Linked DNA regions of Homo sapiens. The protein of the gene in region 1 purifies or fractionates together with the protein of each later gene. This does not show direct contact. Each region holds a gene or a part of one and is shown on either strand. Other genes may lie near its edges. The genes, in order: NOD1, CASP2 and CASP9.

Region 1 (3,651 bases):
CCCTACTAAAAATACAAAAAATTAGCTGGGCATGGTGGCAGGTGCCTGTAGTCCCAGCTACTTGGGAGGCTGAGGCAGGAGAATGGCGTGAACCCGGGAGGCGGAGCTTGCAGTGGGCCAAGATTGTGCCACTGCACTCCCGCCTGGGTGACAGAGCGAGACTCCGTCTCAACAACAACAACAACAACAACAAAGATCATTCCTGGCATCAGTATTTCAAATGGAAGGGCAGCAGGCAGGAACTCTGATGTCTCAACACCCTAGCTTTTAGTGATTGCCCTGGAGTGGCACTGTCCACTTGAGTAGCCCCTGGCCGCATGTGGCTCTTGAGCACTGGAAATGTGGTTGATCCAAACTGAGATGTGCGATTAAAACACATGCCAGGTTTCCAAGCCATAGTATGAAGAAAAAGAATGTAAACTATCTCATTAATAAATTTTTTGTTGATGGGCTGGGTGCAGTGGCTCACACCTGTAATCCCAGCACTTTGGGAGGCTGAGGTGGGAGGATCACTTGAGGCCAGGAGTTCAAGACCAGCCTGGGCAATATGATGAAACCCTGTCTCTACTAAAAATACAAAAAGTAGCCAGGCATGGGGGTGTGCACCTGTAATCCCAGCTACTTAGGAGGCGGAGGCAGGAGAATTGCTTGAACCTGGGAGGCGGAGGCTGCAGTGAGCCGAGATTGCGCCACCGCACTCCAGCCTGGGCGACAGAGTGAGTGAGACTTCATCTCAAAAAATAATAATAAATAAATTTTGTATGGATGACATACTGAAATATTTTGAGTGTATTAGAATTAAAATATATCATTGAAATTAATTTCACCTGTCCATTTTTACTTTTATTAGTGTGGCTATTAGAAAGTTTTAAATTACTAGGAAAGCTGTGTCATATTTCAATTCAACAGAGCTGCTCTATGGTCTCCTTTTTCCCTTTGAAGATCCGCCATCCTGCAATCCCTGCTTCCTTTTCACCAGAGCAGCTTCCCTGAATCTTCTCCTGGAGGCTCTGCAGACCTTTTCTTTAGTTTGGAAGATCACATTGCAGGAGGGGACTTGGGCACTGGTTTCTGTGAGGAGCCCGGAGTGGTGAATTGCCCCTGGGATTCCCTTACCCTGGAAACTAACCCTCTCTGAGGGCAGAAAGCTAGAAAGAAGAGCGGTTGAGAGGAAATGCCTGTGCAACCCCCAGCTCCCTTCGGGGCTCCCTCACTGCCCACAGGCTCTACCCCCACCTGCCTTTGCCTCAGGAGATGGCTTTTGGTGGTGGACTCACCCTCCTCCGATCTCCTCTGCTTCATTTTTCCACTTGGTGATCCATCTTTTGTTCTGCGGTGTGTCCTGTTTTCTGGCTGCCTCCATTAGCTTGGTTTTTTCCTTTGGGTATCCCTGGAGCTGTCTTACCAGGATCTCCAACTTCAGTCCCCATTGGTCTGCACCACTGGCCTGGGAAAGCTCCACCCAGGAGAGCAGACCCAGCTCCCAGATACCTGGCCCCAGCCCAATCTCCGTCCTCTCTTTGCCTGGAAGAGAGGACCAGACCGTCTTCATCAACTGGACCCACCCTTTACCAAGCAAAGAAAGGAAAGGATTGCCCCCCAGGGCCAGCAGATCTCTGGCTGTCTGGTGTTTCTGGTAATAAGTGCCCATGAACTTCGAATTGATCTCCAGTCTCCCATGGTATGGTTTTGGTCTACCCTTAGATTCTGTTTACCAAGGCAGAGTTCAGTTTCTCTGCTTTCCCTTCCAACATCCATACCTTGTTAAGTTCTTGCTGAATTGAGCTAACTCTGCACACCTGATTAAATCTTCAGCCAGGGCTCTGGACATTATAAAGCAGCCTCCTTGCCAGATGGCTGTCATATAATATATTGCTTTATTTAGGTGATTGTAAGTCAGGAGACTTTCCTTCGGTTTCTGCCTTTGATGGCAAGAGGTGGAGATTGTGGCGGCGATTACAGAAAACATCTGGGAAGACAAGTTGCTGTTTTTATGGGAATCGCAGGCTTGGAAGAGACAGAAGCAGTGAGTAAAACGGGCCCCTCGTGGTAGGCGGGCAAAGGTCGGGAAAGGAGGGATGAAGGAAGCTGTGCAACACCCCTTCCCAGCTTTCTAAAGAATGGAGCATGGCATTGCAAAATGCTGAATCACAAAGTGAGAAGTGACTTCTTTCCAGTTTTCTCTCAGCCTTGTGATGATCTTAAAGAGAAAGTCTCAATTCTGTGCTACTGTGTCTTTAACATCTCTCAAATGCTTCCGAGAGAAAACAGGCCCCAACCCTGGAGCCTTTCCAGGCAGCAGGACTAGCTGGAATACAGTAACATTGTGGTATTTCTGGTGAATTAATTTTTGTGTTACTTTCTATGTATTGCAAAGGATATTTTTTTTCTGTTTCTAATGGTGACATTACATTCCTTTAAAATTATTAGAGTTTTCAAAACTCAATTGAAAGCAAAAGGTTAAGCAAATAAAGGACAGGTGTGACTCAATTATGGCAAGAACAACAAAAAAGTGACTATGGTGGGGACGTTGAACATTTAGAAAACACTGTCCTAAAAGAAGAAGGTACAGAGAGTAGTCTGATACCTGGGAGTACTAGATTTTAAAATTATTCTCTTGCCAATTTTATTCATTCATTCACCATGTGCCACAATAATTTTTTTAAGTCTTTCTTTGATTTTGCAGATTCCAGAAATAAATTGGAAATTGAAGATTTAAACAATGTTGTTTTAAAATATTCTAACTTCAAAGAATGATGCCAGAAACTTAAAAAGGTATTATTAACTGCTAATTTAAATTTAATATTGTCAGCTGGTATGCTTTAAATGAACCGATTTTCTAAAGCTAAGGATCCTAAAGTGGGTCATAGAATTGACTGCCATGGAAAATAGCCGGGTGTGGTGGCTCACACCTGTAATCCAAGCACTTTGGGAGGCCGAGGTGGGCAGATCACTTGAGGTCAGGAGTTCAAGACCAGCTTGGCCAACGTGGTGAAACCCTGTCTCTACTAAAAATACAAAAATTAGCTGGGCATGGTGGCACCCGCCTGTAGTTCTAGCTACTCGGGTGGCTGATGCAGGAGAATTGCTTGAGCTCAGGAGGCAGATGTTGCAGTGAGCCGAGATTGTGCCACTGCACTCCAGCCTGAGCCACACAGTGGGACTCTGTCAAAAAAAAAAAAAAAAGAAAAGGCTGGATTAGTATTTAATAACTTTTATTGGAACAATAACTAATATTTTCATACCTTTAAATTTTTTTGGTGAGGATCTCTTGCCCTTCTGTTGCTGATAATTTTAAATTTTACTCTTTCCTGCTCTATCATTTGGATTCTAAAAAGAAAGCTATTGTGTGGGGTCTGGCATTTGATAGGTTAAAAAAAGAAAACATAGAAGCATGTCAAAGAGCAGGAGACTCATGTGCCACTTGGTGGAAAAAAAATTGAGAACCACTGGACCTGAATGTTAACAGATGTGGCTTGTGAAACATATTAATGATGTGGATAGTGTTAAAAGATCTATGAGCTTTTTTTTGAACTACAAAAAAACCTTTTTTTTACTCTCTCTCTGAAATGCATGAGTTTTCCTGCCTAGACAAACGACAAAGTGGCCAATTCCAGGCCTTTCCACTTCCAAGATCATTTTACACACGCA
Region 2 (3,651 bases), about 110 Mb from region 1:
CCCCTCCTCCCAAACAGATGCTCGGATCTGATTTTAAAATAGCATCTGTGTGAGTATGTGAGATGTGGCTGGTCACAATGAAGTGGGTTCACCTCCTTACAAACCTTTAGTCATAACTGAGGTTTTGGACATCAGCAGGTAAAAGTAAGGAACAGTTGGGAGCTTAAGTAAGAAATAATGTGATGAATTGTTTTTCCAGCAAGGTTGCCATGGAGGGGGCTGCACTAAGGAAAGAGGTTATGGGTCAGCAACTTTACTTTTCATTCCCTGCTCTATCCCCAGGCCCAGGGCACTGCCTGATGCATGGTAGCACTTATAAATGTTCAATGAATGGATGAAAATTAATCTGCCTGAAAAACTGTAGGTATTATGTAAAAAACAAATATGAGGATATTGTGACAAAAGAACCAGTGACATTTATTGATTGATGGATCTGTGATATAAAGGTGAGAGAGGAATTCTCCTTTCTCTTTAGCTTGGCCTGTTTCCTTTAGGCGTCTTTACTAACAAAACGACGTTAAATTGTGATTTTCTCATCCTATATCCAGGGATTTAATACACTATTGGATCTGGATAAGGAGTAATTGCTCTTTTCTGGAGTAATCTGGATCTTTTGCTCTGTCTCTCTAACTTTTCTGAAATTAAATCCTTCAAGGAATGACCAGTAGCCAATTGTTCCATTGAAAATTTGAGTTCACCTGTCTTCCTGCTGTATTTGGTTAATATAATTAATGTCTAGAAAAAGCTCCACCCCCCTGCCCCAGTCAGCTTCTAAACTGGAGTGTAAGCTCCATGACGGCAGGAATTTTCTCTTCACTCTATCCCTAGGCCTTAAAGTAAGACAGTGCCCAACACATGGCAGTTGCTTGACACATTTTTATTAAACCTGTGCTTTGGTCCTTTTCCCCCAATTCTTGAAGCTTCCCTTCTTTCCTAGGCTCCCTCGACATTGCATGGATCAGGAAGTACTGTAAAAGAGCATACTCTTACTTTTGATGTGTTGACCTGAGAGTCCTCCCCATCTGTCTTGCCTACTGACAGCACCCCTGCCCACACCCAAAATAAAACAACATCATCAAAAATAAGAGTCTGTCTTGGGATACATAAGGCTTGTATCAAGAGCAAGGATCTGCTCAGGGTATGTTGAGAAATTACTGCTAAAATTGAATAAGGATGATCTTTTTAAATTTTCTGGGAGAAAACAGTCAAGTTCTCCCCACTTTAAGTTTTTCCTCTTAAAATTTTCATAAGGCCAGGTGCAGTGACTCATGCCTATAATCCCAACACTTTGGGAGGCCGAGGCAGAAGGATCACTTGAAGCCAGGAGTTCAAGACAAGCCTGGTCAACGTAGCAAGACCCCATCTCTATTAAAAAAAGAAAAAAAAAGATTTAAAAAGTTATTTTAAAAAATAAATTAAAAATTTTTTTTCTTAAATCTTGGATGCTTGCTATAATTTATCTTATGAAATTAATAAACATAGTGCTTCGAAGATATCAAAACCACCTTGGAAACAACTGATCATACTTAGTTTTATTATTTTTTGATACATAGTTCGAGGTTGTGATTTTTATATAGCATACATATGGTAACCGTATTTGTTATTTATTACCTTGTTTTTTCTTGTTTATGTAATTAAATATATCAATATTTTATTATGTATTGCAATAAAAAGCACTGTGACTCCCAGGCATATTGTTAATTGAACAAGTGAGTTGTGGACTTAGATGATTTTCAGTTCCATTTACAAGGAGTATTTGATTTGGCATTTTCCCTGTCTTACACAGAATGGGAACTGCTCCAACCGCATAGATGTGCATGTGCTTGAGCGTGGTGCCCGGTGTGTATGAGGCATCCCCTGAGTAACAGATGCATGCTGAGAGAGTAATAATTTTTTTTTTTTTTTTTTAGTTTATCAGCCATAGGTTGGAGGCAACAGCTGGAAATGGCTCTTCCCCTTCAAGGTTGTAGGGAACGTGGGCTTGCCTGTGACAGGCCCAAGAGAGATAGGAAGAAGTAACATCATTGTCCATTCTGTCTGCCTTTGTTACAGATGAGACTGATCGTGGGGTTGACCAACAAGATGGAAAGAACCACGCAGGATCCCCTGGGTGCGAGGAGAGTGATGCCGGTAAAGAAAAGTTGCCGAAGATGAGACTGCCCACGCGCTCAGACATGATATGCGGCTATGCCTGCCTCAAAGGTACTTTGAGTTCCAAAAGAGTTGAGTCATACCTCATTTTGTTGCACTTTGCTTTATTGTGCTTTGCAGGTACAGGTTGAGTATCCCTTATCTGAAGTGTTGGAACCAGAAGTGTTTCAGATTTTGGATTTTTTTGTTTTTTTGGATTTTGGAATATTTGCGTTATACTTACTAGTTGAGTATCCCGTATCCAAATATTCTAAATTTAAAACACTCCCATGAGCACCTTCTTTGAGCATCATATTGGCACTTGGAAAGTTTCAGATTTTGAAGCATTTCAGATTTTTTGGATTTGGGATGCTCAGCTGCTTTTTACAAATTGAAGGTTTGTGGCAATCCTTTGAGCATCTGTCAGCACCATTTTTCTATTGGCATGCCTCTGTTAGCATTTTTCAGCAATAAAGTATGTTTTAATTACAGCATATGCATGTTTTAGACATAATGTTGTTGCACACTTAATAGACTGTAGGATAGTAACCATAACTTCCGTATACACTGGGAGACCTGAAAATTTGTATGACTTGCTTTATTGCCATATTCACTTTCTTAAGCTGGTCTGGAAACAGACCTACGGTATCTCCAAAGTATGCCAATAATCCAAAAGAGTACCCTCCTAGACTTAGATTCTTCATGCTGGGTTCTCTGACTAGGGAGGGTGCAGGTGTCATGGCCGAGTCTAGTTTGGGAAGTGCAGCTGTGTGATGGCATTCACACTGTGATTAATGCCCTTTTGGTTGCAGGGACTGCCGCCATGCGGAACACCAAACGAGGTTCCTGGTACATCGAGGCTCTTGCTCAAGTGTTTTCTGAGCGGGCTTGTGATATGCACGTGGCCGACATGCTGGTTAAGGTGAGCCAGCGGGCTCCGTGACCCCTGTGTGTCTCCACAGTGCTCTACTTTCCTCCTCTCTTGAATGCTCTTTCATAGTCCGTCTCCCCTTCCCGTTTGCTGCTCTCCTGAAGCCCGAGATTCTCAGACTTGGGCCTATTGGTTCTGCCCCTCCAGGTGAACGCACTTATCAAGGATCGGGAAGGTTATGCTCCTGGCACAGAATTCCACCGGTGCAAGGAGATGTCTGAATACTGCAGCACTCTGTGCCGCCACCTCTACCTGTTCCCAGGACACCCTCCCACATGATGTCACCTCCCCATCATCCACGCCAAGTGGAAGCCACTGGACCACAGGAGGTGTGATAGAGCCTTTGATCTTCAGGATGCACGGTTTCTGTTCTGCCCCCTCAGGGATGTGGGAATCTCCCAGACTTGTTTCCTGTGCCCATCATCTCTGCCTTTGAGTGTGGGACTCCAGGCCAGCTCCTTTTCTGTGAAGCCCTTTGCCTGTAGAGCCAGCCTTGGTTGGACCTATTGCCAGGAATGTTTCAGCTGCAGTTGAAGAGCCTGACAAGTGAAGTTGTAAACACAGTGTGGTTATGGGGAGAGGGCATATAA
Region 3 (3,651 bases), on another chromosome or scaffold:
CTCACTGCAACCTCCACCTTCCGGGTTCAAGCTATTTTCCTTTTTTTTTTTTTTTTTTTTGAGACGGAGTCTCGCTCTGTCGCCCAGGCTGGAGTGCAGTGCCGCAATCTCGGCTCACTGCAAGCTCCGCCTCCCGGGTTCATGCCATTCTCCTCCCTCAGCCTCCCGAGTAGCTGGGTCTACAGGCACCCGCCACCACGCCCGGCTAATTTTTTGTATTTTTAGTAGAGATGGGGTTTCACCGTGTTAGCCAGGATGGTCTCGATCTCCTGACCTCGTGATCTGCCCACCTTGGCCTCCCAAAGTGCTGGGATTACAGGCTTGAGCCACCGCGCCCAGCCAGGGTTCAAGCTGTTCTGCCTCAGCCTCCTGAGTAGCTGGAATTACAGGTGCGCACTACCACGCCCAGCTAATTTTTTTGTATTTTTAGTAGAGACGGGTTTCACCGTGTTGGTCAGGCTGGTCTTGAACTCCTAACCTTGTGATCTGCCTGCCTTGGCCTCCCAAAGTGCTGGGATTACAGGCGTGAGCCACCGCGCCTGGCAGGAGACTCCCCTTCGCGGTCTGCTAAGTAATGGGTGTCTCCCCAGACACTGGCATTACCGCTTGACCAAGGAGCCCTCAAGCGGCCCTTATGCGGGCCTGACAGAGGGCTCACCTCTTGCCTTCTAGGTCACTTCTCACAATGTCCCTTCAGCACCTGACCCTATACCCGCCGGTTATTCCTAAGTTATATTAGCAATGCAACAAAGAGTAATATTAAAAGCTAATGATTAATAATGTTTATAATAATGATTGATAATTGTCCATGATCATCTCTATACCTAATTTGTATTATGACTATTCTTATTCTAACTATTTTCTTTATTATACTGAAACAGTTTGTGGCTTCAGTCTCTTGCCTCGGCACCTGGGTAATCTTTCGCCCACAAAAATTCAGTTCCTCAGTTGTACTACCCAAGTGCTTAATGGTCATGTGATATATGGTTACTAAATAGGACAATACAGACCAAGAATATTTCCATCATCACGGAAGGTTCTCATAGACAGTGCTGCTGTAGGATAGTTGAGGACACGGTGCCATCTTATCCCTGTGGATCCTGAGAACCTGTCCAGTGCTGGGTATCTGAGGACAGGTGGCAGATAACCAGACTCTTCCTTCTTAGTGACTGACCCCACCATCCTGACACCTCTCAATTTTTTTTTTTGAGACAGGGTCTTGCTCTGTCACCCAGGCTGAAGTGCAGTGGTGCTATCACAGCTCACTGCAGCCTTATCTCCTGGGCTCGAGCCATCCTCTTGGGAGCCTCAGCCTCCTGAGTAGCTGGGACTACAGGTGCGTGACACCATACCTGGCTTTTTTTTTGTTATTTTTTGTAGAGACAGGGTCTCACTGTGTTGTCCAGGCTGGTCTCGAACTGGGCTCAAGCTATCCTCCCACTTCAGCCTCCCAAAGTGCTGGAATTGCAAGCATGAGCCACTGTGCCTGGCCTGCCTGTCAACCTTGACCCTTGCTCTGTCTTCACAGTCCCCCCAGTCAGTGCCCATGTCCTATGGACCCTCTCTCTTTGTATCTCTGCTTTGTCCTTTCACTTCTCTCTATTCTAGCTGCACCATCTTTGCTGCCTCCTGATCTGGCTATGGCTCACTCCTTTCCATTTTTCACCCTGACCCCTGGATGACTTTTTGAAAGGCCATATCTGTCTCTGTCACTCCATTCTTAAAACTCTTTGGTGGCCGGGCATGGTAGCTCACGCCTGTAATCCTAGCACTTTGAGAGGCTGAGGTTGGTGGATCGCTTGAGGTCAGGAGTTTTGAGACCAGCCTGGCCAACATGGTGAAACCCTGTCTTAACCAAAAAATACAAACATTAGCCAGGCATGGTGGTGGGTGCCTGTAGTCCCAGCTACCTGGGAGGCTGATGTGGGAGAATCATTTGTACCCAAAAGGTGGAGGTTGCAGTGAGCTGAGATGGTGCCACTGCATTCCAGCCTGGGTGACAGAGCAAGACTCCTCAAAAAACAAACAAAAAAACAACCGATGGCTGGCCACGGTGGCTCATGCCTATAATCCCAGCACTTTGGGAGGCCAAGGCTGGAGGATCACTTGAGGTCAGTTCAAGACCAGCCTGGGCAACATGGTGAAACCCTGTTTCTACTAAAAATAAAAAAAAAATTAGTCAGGTATGGTGGTGTGTGCCTGTAACCCCAACTACTCCGGAGGCTGAGGCAGGATAATCGCTTGAACCTTGGAGTTGGAGGTTGCAGTGAGCTGAGATTGCACCAGTACACTCTAGCCTGGGTGACAGAGTGAGACTCCGTCTCAAGAAAAAAAAAAAAAAACAAAAACAAAACCAAAAAACTCTTTGGTGGCACCTGACAGGTCTCAGGATGAATTTCTTGGCCTGGCCACACAAAGGCCTTGTCCCTTGCCACTATCTACCTCCCACCTCATAAGACTCTGAATTCGCTATTCACTTCATGATATCCTCAGCCCCATGTGCTTCCCTCTGGGCACTTGTCTCTTGTTGTGTCATTGCTGATTTGTCTGATTGCATTCCCCATTAGAAATTTGCTCCTTAAGGACTGAGACTGTCCATGGCAGCATTTTCAGCACTTAGCATAGTGCTGGGCATCTTTTGCCCTGCAAAATAATGAACAGATCAGCAAAGGCTGGTAAATGGCACACAGTGCACCTGCAGCTCCATTGCTGCCCACGTGCCTGATTGTTTAGACTTACAGTAGCTGGGAAATGGGGAGACAAGGTGAGAGCCATATAAAAGTACGTGGATAATTAGTATCCTGCCTTTCTTTCCAAACAGCGGGCAGGCTCTGGATCTCGGCGGGATCAGGCCAGGCAGCTGATCATAGATCTGGAGACTCGAGGGAGTCAGGCTCTTCCTTTGTTCATCTCCTGCTTAGAGGACACAGGCCAGGACATGCTGGCTTCGTTTCTGCGAACTAACAGGCAAGCAGCAAAGTTGTCGAAGCCAACCCTAGAAAACCTTACCCCAGTGGTGCTCAGACCAGAGATTCGCAAACCAGAGGTTCTCAGACCGGAAACACCCAGACCAGTGGACATTGGTTCTGGAGGATTTGGTGATGTCGGTAAGTAGCAAGAGAGTGATTGGTGGGTGGGCATGACACGTAGTCATTTGGGACTCACTATGAGTACAGCTGGGTGGGCTGAGATTCAGAATTTAATTTTAGCATTGTCTTTCTGAATGTTCATAGGGATGGCAAAATTCTGGGAGGTTTTCAGGAGGTTGAATCTTGGCAGCCCCTCCTCTGAAAAGCATGTGTTGAGGTCTGTTTTGGATGTCCCAGGTTTTTTGTTTTTGTTTTTGTTTTTTTTCCTGCCTTTGAGATAGCAGGCCCCAGGTTTTGATCAATGTTTCCAGAGCCATCTATTGTTTTGGATTTGCCTTTCAGTCTGGGTGGGTAGCCTGGACTACCTCATGTCTGGGGGCAGGAGACAGGCCTCAGTTGTATCTGCCCCATACAAACAGACATCTGCAAAGTATTTACCCTTACCTTCTTCGTTTATAGCAACCTTGCAAGGCAGGTATCATTAGACCCATCCTTGTTGATGGAGAAACTGACTGAAGCTCACGGAAATTAAACACTTTGCCAAAGGTCACACGGCTACATC

What was found.
Region 2: the proteins of NOD1 (region 1) and CASP2 purify together in Homo sapiens (affinity purification with western blotting, with the first as the bait; one study listed by BioGRID). This does not show direct contact.
Region 3: the proteins of NOD1 (region 1) and CASP9 purify together in Homo sapiens (affinity purification with western blotting; one study listed by BioGRID and IntAct). This does not show direct contact.

Annotation. Positions count from the first base shown.
Region 1 is NC_000007.14:30,458,276-30,461,926, reverse strand, and holds part of NOD1 (nucleotide-binding oligomerization domain-containing protein 1), read left to right. Parts: intron 1-1,885; 5' UTR 1,886-2,026; intron 2,027-2,686; 5' UTR 2,687-2,775; intron 2,776-3,651. UniProt on the Homo sapiens protein: Pattern recognition receptor (PRR) that detects bacterial peptidoglycan fragments and other danger signals and thus participates in both innate and adaptive immune responses.
Region 2 is NC_000007.14:143,301,732-143,305,382, forward strand, and holds part of CASP2 (caspase-2 isoform 1 preproprotein), read left to right. Parts: intron 1-2,052; coding exon 2,053-2,202; intron 2,203-2,942; coding exon 2,943-3,052; intron 3,053-3,208; coding exon 3,209-3,340; 3' UTR 3,341-3,651. UniProt on the Homo sapiens protein: Is a regulator of the cascade of caspases responsible for apoptosis execution. Might function by either activating some proteins required for cell death or inactivating proteins necessary for cell survival.
Region 3 is NC_000001.11:15,517,566-15,521,216, reverse strand, and holds part of CASP9 (caspase-9 isoform alpha precursor), read left to right. Parts: intron 1-2,821; coding exon 2,822-3,107; intron 3,108-3,651. UniProt on the Homo sapiens protein: Involved in the activation cascade of caspases responsible for apoptosis execution. Binding of caspase-9 to Apaf-1 leads to activation of the protease which then cleaves and activates effector caspases caspase-3 (CASP3) or caspase-7 (CASP7).